Regions from separate parts of the Homo sapiens genome. Here region 2 is linked to region 1. The links come from fine-mapping of genetic effects on gene expression. A gene starts in region 1. The other region holds a variant in brackets. All regions are shown on one strand. Distances are between the middles of the regions.

Region 1 (10,496 bases):
GGATTATTTGAGGCCAGGTGTTCAACACAGCAAGACCCCATCTCTACAAAAAATAAACGAATTAGCCATGCATTGTGGCAAGCACCTGTAGTCCTACCTACTCAGGAGGCTGAGGCAGGACGATCCCTTGAACCCAGGAGCTCAAGGTTACAGTAAGCTATGAGAGTACCACTGCACTCCAGCCTGGGCAAAAGAGTAAGACCACATCTTTAAAAAATAAAAAAGAAGAAACAATAGAAGCCGTTTTAATTAAAGAAAAGCCATGAAGCAAATCACCTAGACCTAAAGATATTTTCAAATTCAGATACTGTCTGGTAAAATATTTCAGTCTGTGTGGATGGGAAAGCTAAGTTTATGACATAGTGAACTATTCAAAAAACCTTAAGAGATTCATCAATTAGTTTACCAAATACAATTTGAGTTTACCAAACTCAACTCTCCATTATAAGGAACAGATACTTCTATATTATTTCTTCACACTTATGTGAAGAGATAAAATCTCTCTTGCTTAGAAAGCCCATATTTATTGTTTACTTCTATATTAGTGTAGACATCAAGGTTAGTGAAACATTTAATTGTGAGATGTCCTAAAATGGGTGTGACTGGTGTCTGAGCATGAGAGTTCACAAATTATATTTATCTTAATTATTATGACTTTTAAAATTTTAATATCTGGAATGGCAACTTATTCTTCTGCAAGATCATCTTATTATAACTTATTCTTCTGCAAGACCATCTTGGCTAATTTTGGCCCTTTGCACTTCCATATACATTTTATAATTAAGTTGTCAAGTTCCATCAAAAAGTCTGCTGGGATTTTAATTGGAATTGCAATCAAATCTATAGGTCAATTGGAGATAACTCACATATTTTTAAAGAATTAATTGATTTTCCCTCTTATTTCTAGTTGACATAGTACATATTTATTGGATACAATGATATTTCAGTACATGTGTACAATGTGCAATGATCAAATCTGGGTAATTAGCATATCCATCACCTTGAAAGTATATCATTTATTTGTGTTGTGAACATTCAAAATTCTCTCTTCTAGCTTCTTGGAAAAAAATACATTAAATTATTGTTACCCGTATGCACCCTATAGTGCTATAGAACACTAGAACTTATTCCTTTCATCCAGCTGTAAATTTGTATTTGTTATGTAACCTCTCATCATCTTCCCCTCCCACTACCCTTCCCAGCCTCTAATAACCACAGAAAATTCACTTTTTTTTTTTTTTGAGATGGCGTTTTGCTCTTGTTGCCCAAGCTAGAGAGCAATGGCGTGATCTCGGCTTACTGCAACCTCCACCTCCTGGGTTCAAGTGATTCTTCTGCCTCAGCCTCCCCAGTAGCTGGGATTACAGGTGCGTGCCACCATGCCCTGCTAATTTTTGTATTTTTAGTAGAGATGGGGCTTCATCATGTTGGCCAGGCTGGTCTTACAGTTTTCGTTTGATAAAATGCTTTTTGTTTGTTTGTTTGTTTCTTGAGTTCAGATTCAGTAGCCTGGTATAATGACAAACTAGAAATCACAGTATGGGAAAAATATAGGAGATGATGCTTTGATTTCAGGAATATTGTGGATTATCAAACTAAAATTAGCAGATTCTATTTAGCCTCTTAGAATTTCAAAAATTTTTAGACATTAGTATACATCCCCACCTTCACGATATCAGAAATAAAGGGTAGTGAAGATAGCAGAGTGAAATATGAGAATTGTCTCCATTTCAGAAGGTATTTGGCTGAAATGAGACATTTCACAATTTGGTCTTCTGGTCTGCTCATCACTGGAAGTCCCAGCTTCTTCCTGGATAAGAAGTTGTACTTGGATTATATTATTATAACCACATTGTAATTATTATTGTGGAAACACCACAGACAACACGTAAAAGAATTTTTAGTCATAATCCCTACTTATAGTCTTGATTCCTTTGATCTTCACATCTACTTGTTTTGCAATTTTGGTTCCTAAATCAGACATTTGGTATAGTTGGTCAGCCTAGAAACGTCAAAGACAAAAGCTGTCTAGCTATTTGCAAGATTGTCATTGAAGTCCCTTGTGTTTGCACAGATTGCATCTGTCTATTCTGAAAGATGAGCAACAAATCCAGTCAAAGCCTGAGTGAAATAACTGACAATCTTAGATCAACCCTGATGGTCACTCACGAGTCCAGCAGTTTCTATGCAGAGCACCAAACACCTTACTTACAAAAGTAAGGTTAGTGGGAGCTTGGTATTTTCCATATCATCTTGGAGAAGCACTGTTTTGCTTATTCTGTTTTTCCTCCTCCTCCTCTTCCTCCTTTTCTTCACATATTTTGTGTGAATAAGAAAGTACTATTGGCTAGGCAGGTTGGCTTATTCCTGTAATCCCAGCACTTTGGGAGGCTGAGGCGGGTGGATCACCTGAGGTCAGGAATTTGAAACCAGCCTGGCCAACATGGTGAAACCCCGTCTCTACTAAAATACAAAAATTAGCCAGGCATGGTGGTGCACACTTGTAATCCCAGCTACTCGGGAGGCTGAGGCAGGAGAGTCAGTTGATCCCAGGAGGCAGAGGTTGCCATGAGCTGAGATCGCGCCGCTGCACTCCAGCCTGGGCGACAGAGCGAGAATACGTCTCAAAAAACAAAACAAAACAAAAAAGTGTTATTTATAGGAATAAGAACTAAAATGCCTTGTTAATATATTGTTTTGGCATTGCCAAATTTAGCCTATTTGAGTGCATGGATTGCATTTGGGGATTGCTGTTTTCTTTTTTGTTTTGTATGTTTGCTTTAGATGCGTAGACAGAGGGAGTGGAGTAAGGCTTTACAGAGATTACTACAGAAGGCATTTTTTTTTTTCATAAAGAGGGGAAAACGCACCCATCTCATAACAAGAATTTGGAGTCAAAACGAGACAGATTCCATTCCTGCCTTCCACATTAATTAGCTAGGTGACTTTGGGCAAATCACTTAACCTCTAGGTTTTCTCATCAGCAGAATGAAAGCGTTGGCCTATAGACACCCATTTAAATCCCTCCTCCAAATACTCATTCGTTCGATATTTTCTCAGTGTCTACTAAGCACAATCATTGTTAATAAACACTATGATTCTTGGAGAGCTCCAAATCGTGTCTCTGCTTTTAAGCATCATTCCCCTTCCTCCTTTAAAACCAGCGCCTGACTTCTCCCCCAAACAAATCGAAACACTTTTACCGTCTGAAAATGTACATGGGAAAAGAAACGCGTTTCATTGCAGTCACCCGGCGCCAACCTAGACCTGGCGGGCCAGCGAGCTCGTGAGATTTTCTTTCTTTCTAAAGGACAATCTCCACATTTTAAAGGGCAACCCAGTTACCCGAAGAAATACAACTTAAAGGGCGCCTGGAGCCAGGCCGGGACACCCACCCACGCTTTTCTAGGCTGAGGAAACCTGGGAAACTTTTGGGCTCCCGCCGAGTCACGCGGCTGTTCCACGGTAAGAATTGTGCAATGGGGCGAGTCAGGCGGGCGTCCTAGTAGGGAAGAAGCGGGGGAGGCTGCTGCGGTGCCAATGCTTTTCTTAAAAAAAAAAAAAAAAAAAAAGCTAGGTTGTCTCACGCCGTGCGAGGCGCGACGGCGCGGCCGGACAGCCCGGTTCCCGCTGGCCCCAAGCCCGGGCCAAGAAAGCATCGCTTCCCCGCCGGGACCTGGAAGGAGCAGCGCGTGCGTGCGTCCCCTCCCGGGGGCAGAGACTGCCCGCCCGCCACAGCGCTTTCCTGGGACTCTGCGAGGGGCCGGGGTGCGAGCGGGAACTGCGGCAGGCGCAGACTGGCCACATCGATCGTGGCGGGGAAGTCCGGGCTCGCGCTTTCGGTAAGAGCGCCCGGGCTTCCAACTGCGCGGTGCCCCCGCCTCCGCCGCCGCCGGCCAGGCTCGCACTTTCGGATGGTGACGCATCCAGCTGGCTCCGCGGAAGCCTGCGCTGAAACCTGGAGCCCTCCGGGGTGGCCTACTCCTCAGCGCTGCGTTACTGAGCGCTCCCTGGGTGCAGGCTTGGTGATCCAAGTTTGGTCACAGTCATCACTTATGTCACTATCCTTGTGATGTACATACTATAATTAGCGTCACTTAGAAGTGAGGAAACAGGCTCCAAAAGCTTGTTACTTGCTTGTAGTCAAACAGAAGGCAGAGCTGCGAATCAAATCCAGGTTTGTCTCGACATGCCACTAGCTCATACTTCCCTTGGATCAGCCACTAAATGGCTTTCACTCCAGTGAGCAGCGACCAGGTAACACATAGGACGGGTGCGTGGCGGTACCGAGCCCACTGCCCAGGGGCAGCGGGGGCGCTTGCTTCTGGCTGGGGCTCACTCATTTGCCCAAATGGGCTGTAAAATATATACATACACACCCATATATGTGCATATATACACATACGTATATACACACAAACATACGTATATACGTGTGTGTGTTTGTGTATACATACATATTGGACAGCATACCGCAGACTCTGAGCCTCAGTTTTCAATCTTGTATTGGGATCAGGGCACCTATTGTAAGGAGTAGTTGGAAGATGAAATAAGATAGTTTTAACATAGATGCCAGCATCTCGGGGACGCCTGATATATGCCATTTTGCTCTTTTTGCAGCACTCCTGGGGACATCAGGGCACTCACGCTCCTTAACACTGGACAGGAGACCTGCGCAGTCATTCTAGGTCAACACCCTCTCTGACAGACTAGGAATTTAATCCACTCAACGGGAAAATCACTTACCTGCATCACCATCTAGTTACTGACAGACACCAAGCTAGGGTTCCTGCTACCCCTCAAACACACATACCACACACTCACACTCAAACACTTGCTGCCCCTCAAACACACATACCACACGCACACACACTTGCTGCCTTTCAGGCACACATACCCCCCCCCCCACACACACACTTTCTACCTCTCAAACACACATACAACACACACATTTGCTGCCTCTCAAACACACATATCACGCACACAAACACACTTGCTACCTCTTAGACATACAACACACACACTACCACACACACACGCACACATGCACCCCCTCTTTTCCTCCTGGAAGATTCAGACCAGCTCTGGGGCCTGAACGTGACTTCCTCCGAGCGTTGGCAGTGGCGTGGGTGGGGACCTCCGGGAAGGCGAGCAGAGGAAATCAGTCACTGCACTCGCCGCCAGCCAGCGCACAGGGAGAGGGGGACCCAGCCCAGAGGTCCCGCCCCCAGCTCCGCAGGAGGCCTCTGCTGGCGGAGGCTGGGCCCCTTTTGGTAACAAGGGGAATCACTGCAGCCCAGTGAAAGATAAACGCGTGGGTCGGGCTGTGGAATGTCCAAAATTATGAAGATTAAGGAAACAGGCTTTAGGATTCACTTGAAAAGTGAAATCGGCGAATGAAAGTTTTCTAACATGATGAGATCTTGGAAATTGTCCACTCCATTTTTGGGAGGGGTTTAATAATCACTGCCCAACTAGAGCAGCTGTTTTTCCCCTTCCAACGCCCCATTTTGTGAATTGATGCTGAAATAACTGGCCAGGTCTTTCCTTTGGGCACCCTGGAATGTTGGGAATATGAATGGCCTCTTAGTAGAGTTGGAGCTCCAAAGGAAAGGACCCTTTAGAAACAAAAACTTCCATGGCGCCACCGCACTCCAGCCTGGGCCACAGAGTGAGACCCCATCTCAAAAACAAAACAAAACAAAAATCCAACCGCCCCCCCACCAAAAAAAAAACCCTCCTTTTTAAAAATCACAAAAATAATTATTATTCATTGCAGAAAAATCAGATTTTTTCCAGAATCAGAAAATAAATGGAAATCCCACCACCCAGAAAACCACTGTTAACAATCTGATGTATAGCATTATATGTAATCACATCGAACACAATGCTTTGTCACCTTTTTCCTTTGAATCAAATATCATGGAAAAATATTTTCCATACGTGTTTTTAAATCACTACTTCGTATTCCATTGTACATTTATTTAACCAAAGCCCTATTGAATAACTTAAAAATTGTGTCCGGAAGTATTGCTATTTAAACAGGACTGGAGTGTGCAGCTTTGTAGTTATTTTTTTTTTTTTTAAGAGATGGGGTCTCTCTCACCCAAGCTGTAGTGCAGTGGCACAATCATGGCTCACTGCAGCCTTGACCTCCTGGACTCAGGTGATCCTCCCACCTCAGCCTCCCAAGTATCTGGGATTACAGGCAGGACTCATCTTGCCAGGCTGTAACTATACCTGAACACATTCTCAATTATTTGCATGGGTAGATTTTCTGGAAGTGGTATTGCTGGGTTCAGGAATAAGGATTGCCCTACAATGATCTTTTAAGACTTACGATGGCCAAGGCGGGCGGATCATGAGGTCAGAAGATCAAGACCATCCTGCCCAACATGGTAAAACCCGTCTCTACTAAAAATACAAAATTAGCTGGGCATGGTGACACATGCCTGTAATCCCAGCTACTCGGGAGGCTGAGGGAGGAGAATCGCTTGAACCAGGGAGTCAGAGGTTGCAGTGACCCAAGATCGTGCCACTGCACTCCAGCCTGTTGACAGAGTGAGACTCCATCTTAAAAAAAAAAAAAAAACTTATGATTCTCTCCCCCAACCCCCAGTATTTTCCCAGACTTTCTATAATGTTTATTTACCAAAAATTGCTTGAGTGCCCATCACATGCCAGACATGCCAGAATATAGAGATGGATACATTATAGCACAGACCTGAAAAAAATACACTGTAGTTCAAGGTGCCGTAGATACTGTTAGAGAAAGCTTTGGGCAGCCAGGTGCCCACCCAGTTTGGGGAGGATCCTGAAGAACCAGTAGACTTTTTTTTTTTTTTTTTTTAAAGAGAGGGTCTCACTCTGTTGCCCAGGCTGGAGTGCAATGGTGTGATCATGGCTCACTGCAGCCTTGACCTCCCTGGCTTAAGTGATCCTCCTGCTTCAGCCTCCCAAGAAGCTGGGACCACAGGCATGTGCCACCACACCCAGTTAATTTTTTCTATTGTAGAGATGGAGTCTCCCTATGTTGCCCAGGCTGGTCTCGAGCTCCTGGGCTCAAGCCATCCTCCCACTTTGGCCTCCTAAAGTGCTAGGATTACAGCCATGAGCCTTTGCACCCAGCCTGACTTTCTTGAGACCAACAGATTGAGAAGTGAGAGGAAGTTAATGGGGAGTACTGAGGAAGGATGAGAAAGGCAAAGAGAGAGCCAAGGGGAATGTCCTATACAGAAACAAGGTGCCCAGGTATGTGTTCAAATAAATGAACACATGTGAGTTATCTTATGTGCTTGCACTGAGAGTAGAGCTGAGAAGGAGGGCAGTGACATATGGCAAAGAAACAGCCTATTATGTCATGCTGAGAAGGTTTGGACTTTGTTCACATAGCAACAGGAGAAAGTGATTTATAGAGCCTTCAAGGTCATGATGAAATTAGATCTCATCACTTAACCCAGTGAAGGGCACTGTCTTCTGTGGACCCCAAAAATCATTCCTGAGGAGAGAAAACAAAAGATAGGAAGATTTACAAGGGAAATATCCCAAATGAGTATTGAAATGAAAACTGCAGAAAAATGAATCAAATTTACTACCATGTTCATCATACTTAAGTGCTGTAGTTATTGTTAGTTAAGTTTGGTCCTAAACATCTGTATTAGTCCATTTTCACGTGGCTGATAAAGACATACCTGAAACTGGGCAATTTACAAAAGGAAGAAGTTTTAGTTGGTCTCAAAGTTCCACATGGCTGGGGAGGCCTCACAATCATGGTGGAAGGCAAGGAGGAACAAGTCACATCTTACATGGACGGCAGCAGGCAAAGAGAGAGCTTGTGCAGGGAAACTCCCATTTTTAAAACCATCAGATCTCCTGAGACTTATTCACTATCACAAGAATAGCATGGAAAAGACCCGCCCCCATGATTTAATTATCACTGGGTTCCTCCCATGACACATGGGAATTCAAGATGAGATTTGGGTGGGGACACAGCCAAACCATATCAACATCCTCTTCTCTTTTTCCACTTAAAAGAGAATGGCTTTAATACTAATCTTACGGCCAGAGATTACTTCAGTTTCCTGTTGTAATAGGAAAACAAATCCAAGACTTTCAATGAGTCTAAAAACATGTTACATAGATTTTAGTATGTGAAAGCCTTTTGTAAACTATAAAGTAGTACTCAATGAAAGACATTTTTCTGGACGGTAGCTTAAGAAAAACTTGTACAAAGGGTTAAAAACTCAAATGCCTGCTGTGACCATGTAAGTATGGTAATTACTTTCAACAATGCTTGGAAATTCCCAGCTGTTGTCTCTTTTACTATTTCCTCTCCCTCATTTTCTCTATCTCTTTGGAGAATTGTGATTACATGTGTATTAGACATTCTAATATATAATCCAAGTCTTGTAATCTCTCTTTCATATTTTGCATCTCTTCATACTCTTTGGACTGCATTTAGGACAGTTTTTTAGGATCTGACTTCCAGTTCATGAGTTTTTTCTCCAGCTGTATCCAATCTTCTTTTTAACTTGTTTGACTTTTTAATTTCTATCTTTTTGTTCTATTTCTAGAAGTTCTATTTCAGATCTGTTTGGAAAAGTTTGTATAGTCATTTGTTTCTTCACCATATTTACAGGCTTTTATTTCTTGAAACAAAAGTTTTAAAGATAAGATGAGAGGCTGTCTCGTCTTGTGGCTCTGGGCTTCCATCAGCAGGAAACAAGAGGGATCCCTGGGGTAACCTGTGCCTTGGAGAAGAACATTCCTTCTCTATCCTTCACATAAGCATTGTCAAGAATGAAGAGGGAGGCCCAGGACTCTGTATGTTCTGGAGAAGAGACTCCTCCCCACAACAGTCCCCGACAGCCCCACACTCCCACACTCATACCACCATTCTCTGCAACCATTATAAACCCATTATGCCGTTGTCCTTGTTTATGTCAGTCACACAAAAAGTCCAGGACCCCTAGGTTATCTCTCATACCCAAAGCTAATCCCAGCGTGGCTCTAAGGACAGTGAAATATCCTATATTATAATACTCTGTATCTCTCTTCTAGATTTTTTTTAACCACCTACCATCCTACATCTTTTATTAAGTAATTTGTCACCCCTTCTTAAAATGTAAACTTCTTTAAAGCAAGGGTGTTTATTTTGTTAGCCACTTTATCCTTAAGGCTTAGAACAATACCTGGCAAATAGAAGGTATTCAAATAATATTTGTCATGTGAGTTAATATTAAACATTCTTATTTTATATTCTATGTCTTGTCATTCTACATTTGAAGACTGCATGTATGATTTTTACCATCTCCTCCTTCTAGTTTTTACCCATTGTGCCGTTTACTTTTATGTTTTGTGGATTTTGACTCTGGGTTTATATTCCTTGGATTTTATCCGTAGAAATTACTTGAGGCATAGATTGACGTTACCTTCATTCAGAGATTATTTGTGTTTACTTTTACTAGTTGCCTGGGGTTAACTACTTACTCAGGACCAAATTAATCTCTCTCCTTGATTTTTTGTTTGTTTTTGTTTTTAACTATGTAAGTGGGTGACTTGACCTGCAAACCCATGTGTATGACAGTATCAACTGTGGATATAAATTATTGAAAGAGGAAATATACATATTTCCTCTACCAAATGCCAAGGTACAGATGGGCAAGTTTCCTTGCTCCTTTCTGTGCAGCAGGTTTCTTTCCTGTTCATCATTGCACTGGAAGTGCAGCCCCTTTGGGGTTTGCAGCTTTGTTAGATTTTCCTGTCTTAGGCGAGCTTCAGCTTGAGCTGATGTCTAAAAATCCGGTGTTCTTCAGATTTCTCAAGTGTAGCCTGATTTTTATGTGAATTCAGCAATTTTTAAGTGTTGGCAAACAGTTTAAAAAATGTTTTAATGTGCTGGGAAAAAATCACCGCAGGTCATATTTGATCTGTATAAGTTTACAATCTCTCTTCTAAACAGACTAAGCAATTAACCCACCAATCAACCCATGTGTATTGTATTTATATGATGCAGAATGCATTTTGTTAGAATGTATCTGTTAGATACAATAACCACAAATGTGGAAGGAAAAGTCCAATTTTAGATTTGTTTCTTTTTCTCTACAAATGTAATTATCAGATTATGTGTCTACATTTTTAATTCGGGAAATATCACTGTATCTATAATATGGGGAAATATAGGACATAGTTTCTGCTCTCAAAAATTTTACATTCTATGCATTACAGAATGTGCACACTGGATTGAAGTGTCAAGAGATTTAAAGAAGAGCAACTAGAAAGTCATTGGCTCAGTCTGAGTCTGCTTTAAAGGAGCCTTAACTAGGGTGGGCATGATGGCACTAGAAGGAAAAGGGCAGATATCAAGTATTTAAAAGATGATGTGATAGGAGTTGATAATGCATGTGGGGTAAGAATAAGGGAGAAATTATATTTTGTGCTTATGTGGTTGGGAAAATTTTAACCAAGCATTATGTTTTGTGACTGTCTAAAGAGTA
Region 2 (10,496 bases), 56 kb before region 1:
TTTGGACTAAACTCTTGGTCAACATGAGGAAGAAAGCTCAGTCTTCTCTTTGTTACCGTGTCCATAGGGTTTTTTTTTCGTCCACATGGACCTTATAAAGTTACATAGCATGAGATTAATTAGGGCCAGTGCTCAAAGTCAGTAAAATGATGACACCTCTTCTCTAATCACTCTCAGTTAATGCTTCTCTTTGAGAATTGGGGCTAACTTTGTATAGGGCGGTGGTCCTTGACATTTTCTTGCCTTTCTGCCTATTTCTTTTTCCATAAAAGAGAAAAAAATTCTGTAACCTGCCACCTCATCAATCTTTGGCACAAATTAGTTTTTAAAAACTCAGTATAGCAAAGTTTTGCAATAAAATGCAAGTATACATTCTGTGTACTTGTGACAAAGCAGTATTGGACATTTGAGCAACTTTTGCTGACAGTTTATAACATCTCAGTGTGGTCAAATTTGGCCATTTTATATAGTATCACTGAATTAGATGATAATTTTCAAATTGGAAAACAAATCACACTAGTTAAAAGACCAGTGGATTTAAATACACTAAACTATAGTTTAAAAGTATTTTCAAATATTCTGCTTGGCCAACAACTTACGGTGCCTTCAGTTATTTAATATATAATCAGATATTCAAAGGTTTAAAACAATATTTTCATCTTAGTTTATAAATATGAGGGATGTAGCATGTTTTTTGTGCTTTTATTTGTACTCCACATTGATTGATCGCTTGAGAAAAGGTCTTTGTCACCCAGGCTGGAGTGTAGTGGTGCAGTCATGGCAGCCTCAGCCTTTCATGTTCAAGCAATCCTCCCACCTCAGCCTCCAAAGTAGCTGGGACTACTGGCCCTGCTCATACTATTTTTTGTAGAGACAGGCTTCCACTATGTTGCCCAGGCTGGTCTTGAACTCCTGGATTCCAGCAATCCTCCTGCCTCAGCCTCCTAAGGCGCTGAGATTACAGGTGTGAGCCACCATGCCTGGCCTTGTACTCCACGTTATTTTAAAAGTTCTTTGGTGTGCCAGTTTTCTATAAGTGCCTGGTTTTGTAGATAATATTTGGTATATGCGTTATGAAGAAATTGTTCCTAGTTGTATCATTTTTAACATAGAAGAAGTAGTTTAAAATCAGTTTGGGTCCTGGAAGAAAGCATTTTACATCACTGTTTTCTCTCTTCCTTAGTATGCAGTTATTTTTTCTTACTGTAGCATGAGTACCTGTAGTCACTTGTTTATAAATTTAGACAGTTCAGTTCTTAGACGAAACATGTTGAAGAAGAAATATTTCTGATGGATTTAAATTTTCAAAAATGCACGTTTATAAACATTTTCAAGAAAAAGCAAGACACATTTTTGAAACATTTATTTTAAAAATACCATTTTGAAAACCCATATTTTTCTTCCTTGAAACTGCTTTAGAATCTGAGAGAATATTAATTTAAGTAACCATTCACAGAATAATGACAATTTGCTGCTTGTTATTAGGGATGCTTGGCTTCTTTTTTTTTCTAATTTAGGTAAAAAAATGAAATGAGAGAAAAATAAGGAGAAAAAGGAAGTATCTTTTACTTTACCAAAAATGTTTAGTTGTTGCATGGGTTTTGGTGATGGCTAGTAGAGTGAATTTCAACTTTGCAGTACACTTCCTTCGTCTTTATACTTCATATTTAGACATTGAATCACACTAATATTTTGGTGAAGAACAGTCTAATAACTACAAATATGTCAGGATTATTTATTTGTCTCCATACTTACCCAACCTTCAGTGTTTCAGGGTAAGTATTCAGTTTTCCAAAGCTGACAGAATTGTGGTCAAGAAATATTAGTTGATAATCTTATCCTTTTTCGTGGAACAGCTATCTAAAATTTTACTCTAAAATAATCACAGTATCTTTGTTCACGTAGCAGATGTTTATAATTCGGGTAAAAATGTGCAACTATTTCCAAGAACCTTAGGTTATGGGATCCAACTGTGATTTTTTTTTTTTCTTTAATCTTCGTTGCCCTCTCGTGTTTCAACTCTGTATTACAGTTGGCTAAGACCTAGATGATGACCTCCTTAATTTTTAGATATTTTTGCATTTTAGGCAATGTTGTTTTTAATTTGTGTGTAGGTGGATTGTTTCATTGGATGTTGCTTTTCTGAAGATAAGGTCATTTTCATAGTACGTAAAGTTAATAGTTGAGTTAGATTCACTGTACTTTTATTTTCTGACTTCTGCTGATCTAAAGAATTGATTCATCTACCTGACTTATTTGAAGTACAGTGCTAATATCTAATATGCATATAATGAGTCTTTGAAATTGAGCAAATGCCTAATGAAAACATAATTATTTTTCAAATATCTGTCAAGTTCCACTCATATTGAAATAACTTGAAACCTTATGACATGGAAAAAACCCAAGTGAATCATGGTTTTAATAAGTTGATATTCTGATGCCTGAATTCCAATTTCAGAATCTTTTGTACTTTTTATTAAAAGGAAGAATCATCCCTAAAATGACTTCAGAGTACGTCTCAAAGGTACAGATAATTTAAAAGCAAGTGATGTGTATATGTTATTATTACTTTTTAAAAAGGTATTCTGAAGGTTGTCAGTATCACCATAGGTATAGAATTGACATAAACTATAGTGAAAAATATCAATGTTACTAATTTGAGTACATTCTTAGCACTCAGAGCAAGAGGAATGAAAGTCATTTTTGCTAATGTGCATTTTTCTTCTTAATTATAAAGCCCCACTAGCTTCTGCTTCATGATCTCAGTTACTGAGAAAACTAAAACAAAAAGTAAATGTTTTTAGAAATCCTTTTGTTTGTGTAAACTGAATATCCAGTTGATGGAGTTGGACAGCTAGGGTAGGGTAGAGAAAACAAAGCACTGTGTTCACTCATTTGACATGGTTCTGGACATGGGTTCGCCATAACTTAGCAATATATGATCTCTGGCAAATCACCTAAGTTTTTTTTTTTTTTTTCTGCCTATAAAATGGGGTAATAATATCTAATCTATTTCCAGAATCCTTTTTTGATGAATTAATGAATAATTCATTGCCAGCCCCATAGCGTCTTGTGAAAACCAAATGAGAAAACATATAGAGCAGTTTTGAATGTTTGGCAGATATGAAGTATTATTGTCATGTTTGGTTATGAGCACTTTGAAGACAGGAATCATGTCTTAGTTATCTTTATTTCCTGAACATCTAGAAGAGGGCTTTAGAACGTAGTAGTTCCTCGGTATATATATGAAAAATCAATGATTGAGGTCAGGGAGGCACAGTCAGTGAATCCATGCATGGAAGAGATAAGCTGTGAAATATGCTGGAAGCTTACTGCATATTTGATGTATTAGAGTGAAAACCTAATCATGCAGTTGTTCATCCTCATTAATATGGATAAGTCATGTGTTCATCTTTCATTCTAATTTAATTCAACTGGGCCTTTTAATATTTCAGCCTCACCACTTGCTGGGCTCTGATCCTTCTTTTTCTTCTGCCTCCTCACGTCTCCAACCAGAAGGTGATCTTTTAGTCCTTCACTTCATGGGGAGCCTTCAGAGAGAGTAATGCAGCCACCAGAAAGGATGCCGTTGACCGACACAGTGACTGACAGGCTGCCCTGGCTCAGTTATCACAGTGCTGATGCTGTCTATTCTAAAGGTACAGTACTGTGATAACTGAAGGATGGCAGCCATCTTACCTTCCATCAGAGGAGCCTCACCGTACCCAGGAAGAAAGAAGGTGAAAGAGGAATGTGAAACAGGTGGCTGGGACCCAGAAACCCTCTTACCCTGCACCTCTGTCATACTTCTCCCGGGGCATAGGGAGAGTTATTCTGCTTCTCTTTGCCTTGTTTTGTAACATGGGGTAGTTGTTGGTGCAGCCATGTTGTGCTGAGTGAACATATATTAAGATCTTTGGAACCTTTAGGAGACTGAAAATAGGTAAGTATGAATTAGTATTTCTGGAATGGTATTCAGAGAACTTCGTACCATTTTTATAAATGTGAAAGGTAACCTAATTAGAACAGCTTGGCACTTGTCAGTACACTACTAGATTTCAAAATCAGATTCTACTTACAGGGAGAAAAAAAAAGCCCAATATGTTGAACAGTATTGAAATTGTTGCATAAATAAAAGTCCATCATTGTAGACCAGCTTACTGAAGTGAAGAAAGAAAAAAAGTATATCTTTGTCTTGAAGGAGTAGATAGTGACATGTCATGTTTCTTTCAGGATATTTAGGATCTGGCCTAATTCAAAAGAATATTTACTGAATGCCTATGTTATTGCTGCTGCTGTCACATTTACATGAAAATAAAATGTAAATTATTTTATTTCTATCAAATAAGGACTAGTCTGCAGTGATATCTGGCACATATCGATTTCAGGAATACGAAGCTGTAAACACCAAGCCAGCATCACGTGCATGAAAGACTAGGAAATTTTTTTTTTGTTGCCCACACGGGAGTGCAGTGGCATGATCATAGCTTACTTCAACCTTGATCTCCCAGGCTCAAGCAATCCTCCCACCTCAACCTCCCGAGTCTGAGACTACAGGCTCAGGCCACCCACCTGCAAATTTTTAGTAGAGACAGGAGTTCACTATGTTGCCAAGGCTGGTCTTGACCTCCTGAGCTTAATTGATTCTCCCACCTCAGCCTCCCAAAGTGCTGGGATTACAGGCATGAGCCACTATACCCAGCCAGGATTAGGAAATTTAACAGCACACATCTTCAACCTCCATCTTACTCTAGAGAGTACTGCTGGGGGTGAAAGGTGGTTATTGGAGAACCCAGGATTCTGCCAATGCCAATCTCTGCCAATTATCCCTCTTCCCTGTAGACTCCTAAGGACACTGTACACATGTAACAATAGCAAATAAGAAACAAAGTGCATGACTTGATTATGTGTTAGATCTTAGATCACAGTACTGTGCAAGGAAGGCTCAGGTAATTTCATGGAACGTGTTTTAGGCTCAGAGCCTAATCGGGTATATTACCTCATCCTAGGCTCATGTCTGTATCTGGGAGCCTGTGGATGTCTGACTGGTGTAGGAACCCAAAGCAGTGACCCATATGCTTGAGCAAAGAGAACAGAGATGGCTGAGGTTAGGCTGTAATTTGAACCTACCTACCACAGAGAGAAGAGGGGCCAGGGAGAGAAAAACCATTTGTGACTTTTTTTTTTTTTTTTTTTTTTAAAGAAAGAGTCTCAGTCTGCGGTCAGGCTGGAGTGCAGTAGCTCAGTCTTGGTTCACTGCAACCTCTGCCTCCCGGGGTCAAGTGATCCTTATGCCTCAGCCTGCCGAGTAGCTGGGATTACAGGTGTGCACCACCATGCCCATGTAATTTTGTATTTTTGGTAGAGATGGTGTTTCACCATGTTGCCCAAACTGGTTTCAAACTCCTGTCCTCAAGTGATTCTCCTACCCTCAGCCTCCCAAAGTGCTGAGATTACAGGCATTGAGCCACTGCACCCGGCCTCGTGTGACTTTTTAACATACTGTGAACCTTACCTACTATCAGCCCTGCCAACTGCATGTCTTAGATATGGGTCAGGTGTATTATCAGGTCCTCCACTGGGACACAATGGGGAAGAAAGGGAACTGAAAGGGAGTAGGCCTCGTACAGAGAGGTTCTTTCTTATCCTTCATTGTGCCAGTCCTCAGACATTGATGGTCACTGTGTTCCTTTGCTGGTGATTGCAGTTCCCTTTAGTGTCTCTTCCCTCTGCTCTACCCAAAGAGGAACCATTCTTAGTAGTGATCCCTTGAGCCACACTTGGTTGGCCCAGAACTGTTATTTTTTCAGACACATTGACCACATTATAGCCCAGTACCTTCACATGTCCTCATAGATCCACAATTTCTCTAAGCTATATAAGCTACACTACGTTTTTGATTAATTAGAGAGAGGGGTCTCCCCAGTTATTATGCTACCACTCCTGAAATTCTTTGGAGTTTTCTTAAAAGGAATTTCTGACAGAAACTCTGGAAGAACTTTTAGGAAGGGAAAGTTAGGGATTGGTGAATCCTCAAGTAATTTGAAACACTCCTTATGTTTAGTGTTTGAGCAGGTGGAAAAAAGTGCTTCAAGAAGTTATGTGTTGTGCAATCATTGGCCTTGGTGAAGATTTCACCACCTTCCCTGATCTTCCTGTTTTCCCCGTTACTAGTTTTATAAAAATTCATTGGGTTTTATACTTACCCAACCTTGACCTCAAAATCTACAACCAGGCCTGTGGGGTGTTGAAGAACTGAGTGTTGGGTGTCATTTGCAGTCACCCTGCACTACGGACAGAGTCATGCTGGGTCCCCTTTCCTCTAAACAAGAAGGCTGAGGCTTAGTCTGCAGCAGGAGCTCCAGAAGCTTGCCTGGACCTGGAGGTCTTTGGCATCTTCAAGGCATTTCATAGACGTAAGGTGTTCCAGCAGGTTAAGAGAGAAGTGATGCAAGACAGATCCAATGGGGTTTTTCCACTGCCTTGCTTAAAACACAGTGTGTGTTTGGTTGGTATATTCGTTACATTTTTCAGTTTAGGTGAAGTATGTGAGATGGTAAGATTGCAATTAAACCTAGGAATACCGTATAATCCAGCATTTCCACTTCTGGATACATACCCAAAAGATGTGAAAGGC[G/A]GCACTCTGACAGATATTGTATACCCATGTTTATAGCAACATGATTCACAATAACTAAAAGGAGCAACCCAAGTGTCCATTGATGGATAAGTAGATAAATGAAATGTAGTGTATACCTACATTGGAATATGATTCAGCCTTAAAAGGAAGGAAATTCTGACATATGCTACAACATGGATGAACCTTGAAGATACCATGCTAAGTGAAATAAGCCAGACATAAAAGGGTGTATACTGTTATGATTCCACTCACATGAGGCTCCTAGAGTCGTTAAATTCATACAGCCAGGAACTGATGGTTGCCAGGAGCTGGGGGAGAGGGGGGAATGGAGAGTTAGTGTTTAATGGAGTTGTATTTGGGGAAGATGAAAAAATTCTGGAGATGGATGATGGCAGTTGCACAACAACATGAATGTGCTTAATGACACAATGTACACCTAAAAATGGAAAATTTTATGTGTATTTTACCACAATAAAAGAGATTCAGGATAATAACCCTCTTGAAGCCAAAAACAGGATTTAGTTGATTTCTCTGCTCTCCCTTAGTTTTCCGTGTGAAGATAACTGCTGTTTCAAGTAAGCAATTAAAATGTAATTGCCATGTCTTTATGCATTTCAAGTTCTCTAATCTGAAGTCCTTTACACATGTTTCCAGGGTTTCCAACATAGCATAGCTTTAGAATTGTGTAAAATGTAAAGAAAACTCAATATAGTAGCAATGAATATTAAAAACAATGAGAAAAAGGCGTGGACAAGAAGTCACCTGATGTGGCATCTCTTGCTGGCTTTATGTCTTTTCTGGTGAGATTGGGCAACTCACTGGTCCTCTTCCTGTTCCAGTTGCCTCAACTGCCCACGTCTTTGGAGTTATGCTACCACTCCTGAAATTCTTTGGAGTTTTTTTAAACAGAAAAGGAATTTCTGACAACCTATGGAAGAACTCATAAGAAGGGAACGGTCTGGGATTGGTGAATCCTCAGGTAATTTAAAATACTCCTAATGTTTAGTGTTTCAAATTACTTGAGGATTCACCAATCCCAGACCTTTCCCTTCTTAGGGAAATCATATATATAAAATCATATATATAAGAGACTAAAGCAGCATTTAAATGTGGCATGTTATTAAAATATAAACATACAATATATGAAATAATAGTATTAAGTATAGTTTTAAAAAGTATCCTGGTTAGTCTTACAAGTCAAGTATTAGCAGCTTCATTAAAGGAGCATTCTACAGCTTGCTGTCTGTCACGAATAGTTTTCCTATTTGTTGTTACATGCTTAAATTTGATAATAAGAATATAATAATTGAGGCTGGAAATAGCAGTAACCTTCCCTAAGGGATCACATGTTTTATTAGCTGTGGGTAAAAAGGATTCATTTGTGGACCGTATCTGTTTCATCACAAAGTCCTCACTTAGGGTCATGCTTTTAAAACTAAAATCAGATTTTAGTTTTAGGAACATTAGACTACCTCCACCAGATCCTGCACAGTATTCTACCTTGATCATACTACACAGAGTTGGAGCAGACAGCTAGCTGTTGTTCTTGCCTGCCACGCTAATTTCAAATATTTTGCTATGCCTAGTACATTTCTAGCTTCTCTGAATAACCACCCAATTTTAAGTGTGCCACAAACTTGCCTTATCCTGTTTTGGGGGGCCCAGGGGAGACAGGGTCTTCCATAGCTCAGGCTTAGAGTGCAGTGGTGCCATCACGGCTCATTGTAGCCTCAGCCTCCTGATTAGCTGAGACTATGGGTGTGCACCACCATGCCCGGCTAATTTTTCAAAAATTTTTTTGTAGAGACAGGTTTTCACTGTTTCTCAGGCTGATCTTGAACTCCTGGGCTCAAGCAATCCTCCTGCTTTGGCCTCCCAAAGTGCTGGGATTACAGGCCTAGGCCACCACATTGGCTTGTCTATCCTGTTCTTAAGTGAGTATATTTCTTTCAGATCAGTTGCTCTTTGAGACAAACCTCTTACGTTTTTACACTTCAGAGATTTTTTTCCTTTAAAAATTGCTTCTTTAAAACTCTGCATTCATATTTACAGGTGCATTCTATTCATATTTACAGGTGCATTCTATTCATACTTTGTCTTCACCATTACCAGTCATCGTTTTTTGTTTTTGTGTTTTTTTTGAGGCGGAGTCTTGCTCTGTCGCCCAGTTGGAGTGCAGTGGCATAATCTTGCCTCATTGCAACCTCCGCCTCCCGGGTCAAGCGATTTTCCTGCCTCAGCCTCCCGAGTAGCTGGGACTACAGGCATATGCCACCATGCCTGGCTAATTTTTGTATTTTTTCTTAGAGATGGGGTTTCGCCATGTTGACCAGACTGGTCTCAAACTCCTGACCTCAGGTGATCTGCCTACCTCAGCCTCCCAAAGTGCTGGGATTACAGGCGTGAGCCACTGTGCCCAGCCTCTAGTCTTTTTTTTTTTTTTTTTTTTTTTTTTGAGACAAGAGTCTTGCTCTGTCACCAGGCTGGAGTGCAATGGCGTGATCTTGGCTCACTGCAACCTGTGCCTCCCGGGTCCCAGCGATTCTCCTGCCTCAGCCTCCTGAGTAGCTGGGATTACAGGCATGCGCCGCCATGCTTGGCTAATTTTTTTTTTTTTTTTTTTTGAGATGGAGTCTCGCTCTGACACCCAGGCTGGAGTGCCCAGACTGGAGTGTTGCCCAGGCTGGAGTGTCGCCCAGGCTGGAGTGCAGTGGCGCGATCTCAGCTCACTGCAAGCTCTGCCTCCCGGGTTCACGCCATTCTCCTGCCTCAGCCTCCCAAGTAGCTGGAACTACAGGCACCCACCACCACACCCGGCTAAGTTTTTTGTATTTTTAGTAGAGATGGGATTTCATCGTGTTAGCCAGGATGGTCTCGATCTCCTGACCTCGTGATCCGCCCGCCTCGGCCTCCCAAAGGTGCTGGGATTACAGGCATGAGCCACTGCGCCCAGCCTGATTTTGTATTTTTAGTAGGGGCGGGGTTTCACCGTGTTGGTCAGGCTGGTCTTGAACTGCCGACCTCAGGTGATCCACCTGCCTCGGCCTCCCAAAGTGCTGGGATTACAGGTGTGAGCCACCATGCCCGGCCTAGTCATCATTTGTAACCACAAGAATTCTTCATGAAGCATGAACGAGTTAGGTAAGGGAGGCACCAAAAGTCCATTTTGTATTTTTCTTTCATATTTAAGACATGATGAGTGTAAGGATTCCCACTGGAGGAGATTGCCAAGTACAAGAATGTGTGCCTGAGCTGGGTGTGGTGGCTCACATCTGTGATCCCAGTACTCTGGGAGACCAAAGTGGTCAAGACCAGCCTGAGCAACAAAGTGAGACTGTCTCTACCAAAAAAAAAAAAAAAAAAAAAATAGCCAGGCGTGGTGGTGCATGCTTGTAGTCCCAGCTCTTCCGGAGGCTGAGGCAGGATTGCGTGAGCCCAGGAGTTTGATGCTGCAGTGAGCTAGGATGGTGCCACTGCACTCCAGCCTGGGTAACAGCCAGACCCTGTCTCTTAATAAACAAATAAGCAAGCAGGTATGGAACATTCTCAGCTGGGTTCTTTAAGCTGTCTGACAAGGTTTCGGGTTGTAATACATGCTTCTAATGTAAATATGTTAAAATGCACATAATTGAAATGGAGTAAAGTAAGCTGATTATACGTTGCTTTGTGCATTTAGACTATTACTGTATTTTATTTTCCATGAGATTATGAGGAGATTGATGATGTTAAAAGGTGAGAAGAAATAGAGAACCATTTCGATTTAGTCTGTAGAAAATGTATTTTCACTTTTTTGCTACTATCTTTGTAAATGAAATTGCAGAAAAATTACTTAGACTCCCATTGGTTTTTTTCAATTTGA

Evidence for each region. PIP is the estimated chance that this variant, and not a neighbour inherited with it, causes the effect.
Region 2: its variant is fine-mapped to the expression of LINC01359 in whole blood (INTERVAL, PIP above 0.99).

The regions. Positions count from the first base shown.
Region 1 is chr1:64,996,090-65,006,585 of GRCh38, reverse strand. It overlaps LINC01359 (long intergenic non-protein coding RNA 1359), which reads left to right and starts at 4,110. Exons shown (of 7, transcript NR_119383.1): 1 at 4,110-4,257. It also overlaps a transcript of JAK1 not described here. RefSeq lists a silencer at 3,745-3,884 and an enhancer at 4,015-4,094.
Region 2 is chr1:65,051,627-65,062,122 of GRCh38, reverse strand. MIR3671 (microRNA 3671) reads left to right here and starts at 4,281; the gene lies at 4,281-4,368. It overlaps MIR101-1 (microRNA 101-1), which reads left to right and starts at 3,615; the gene lies at 3,615-3,689. It also overlaps a transcript of JAK1 not described here. The variant G/A (reference allele first, on the strand shown) is at 6,638.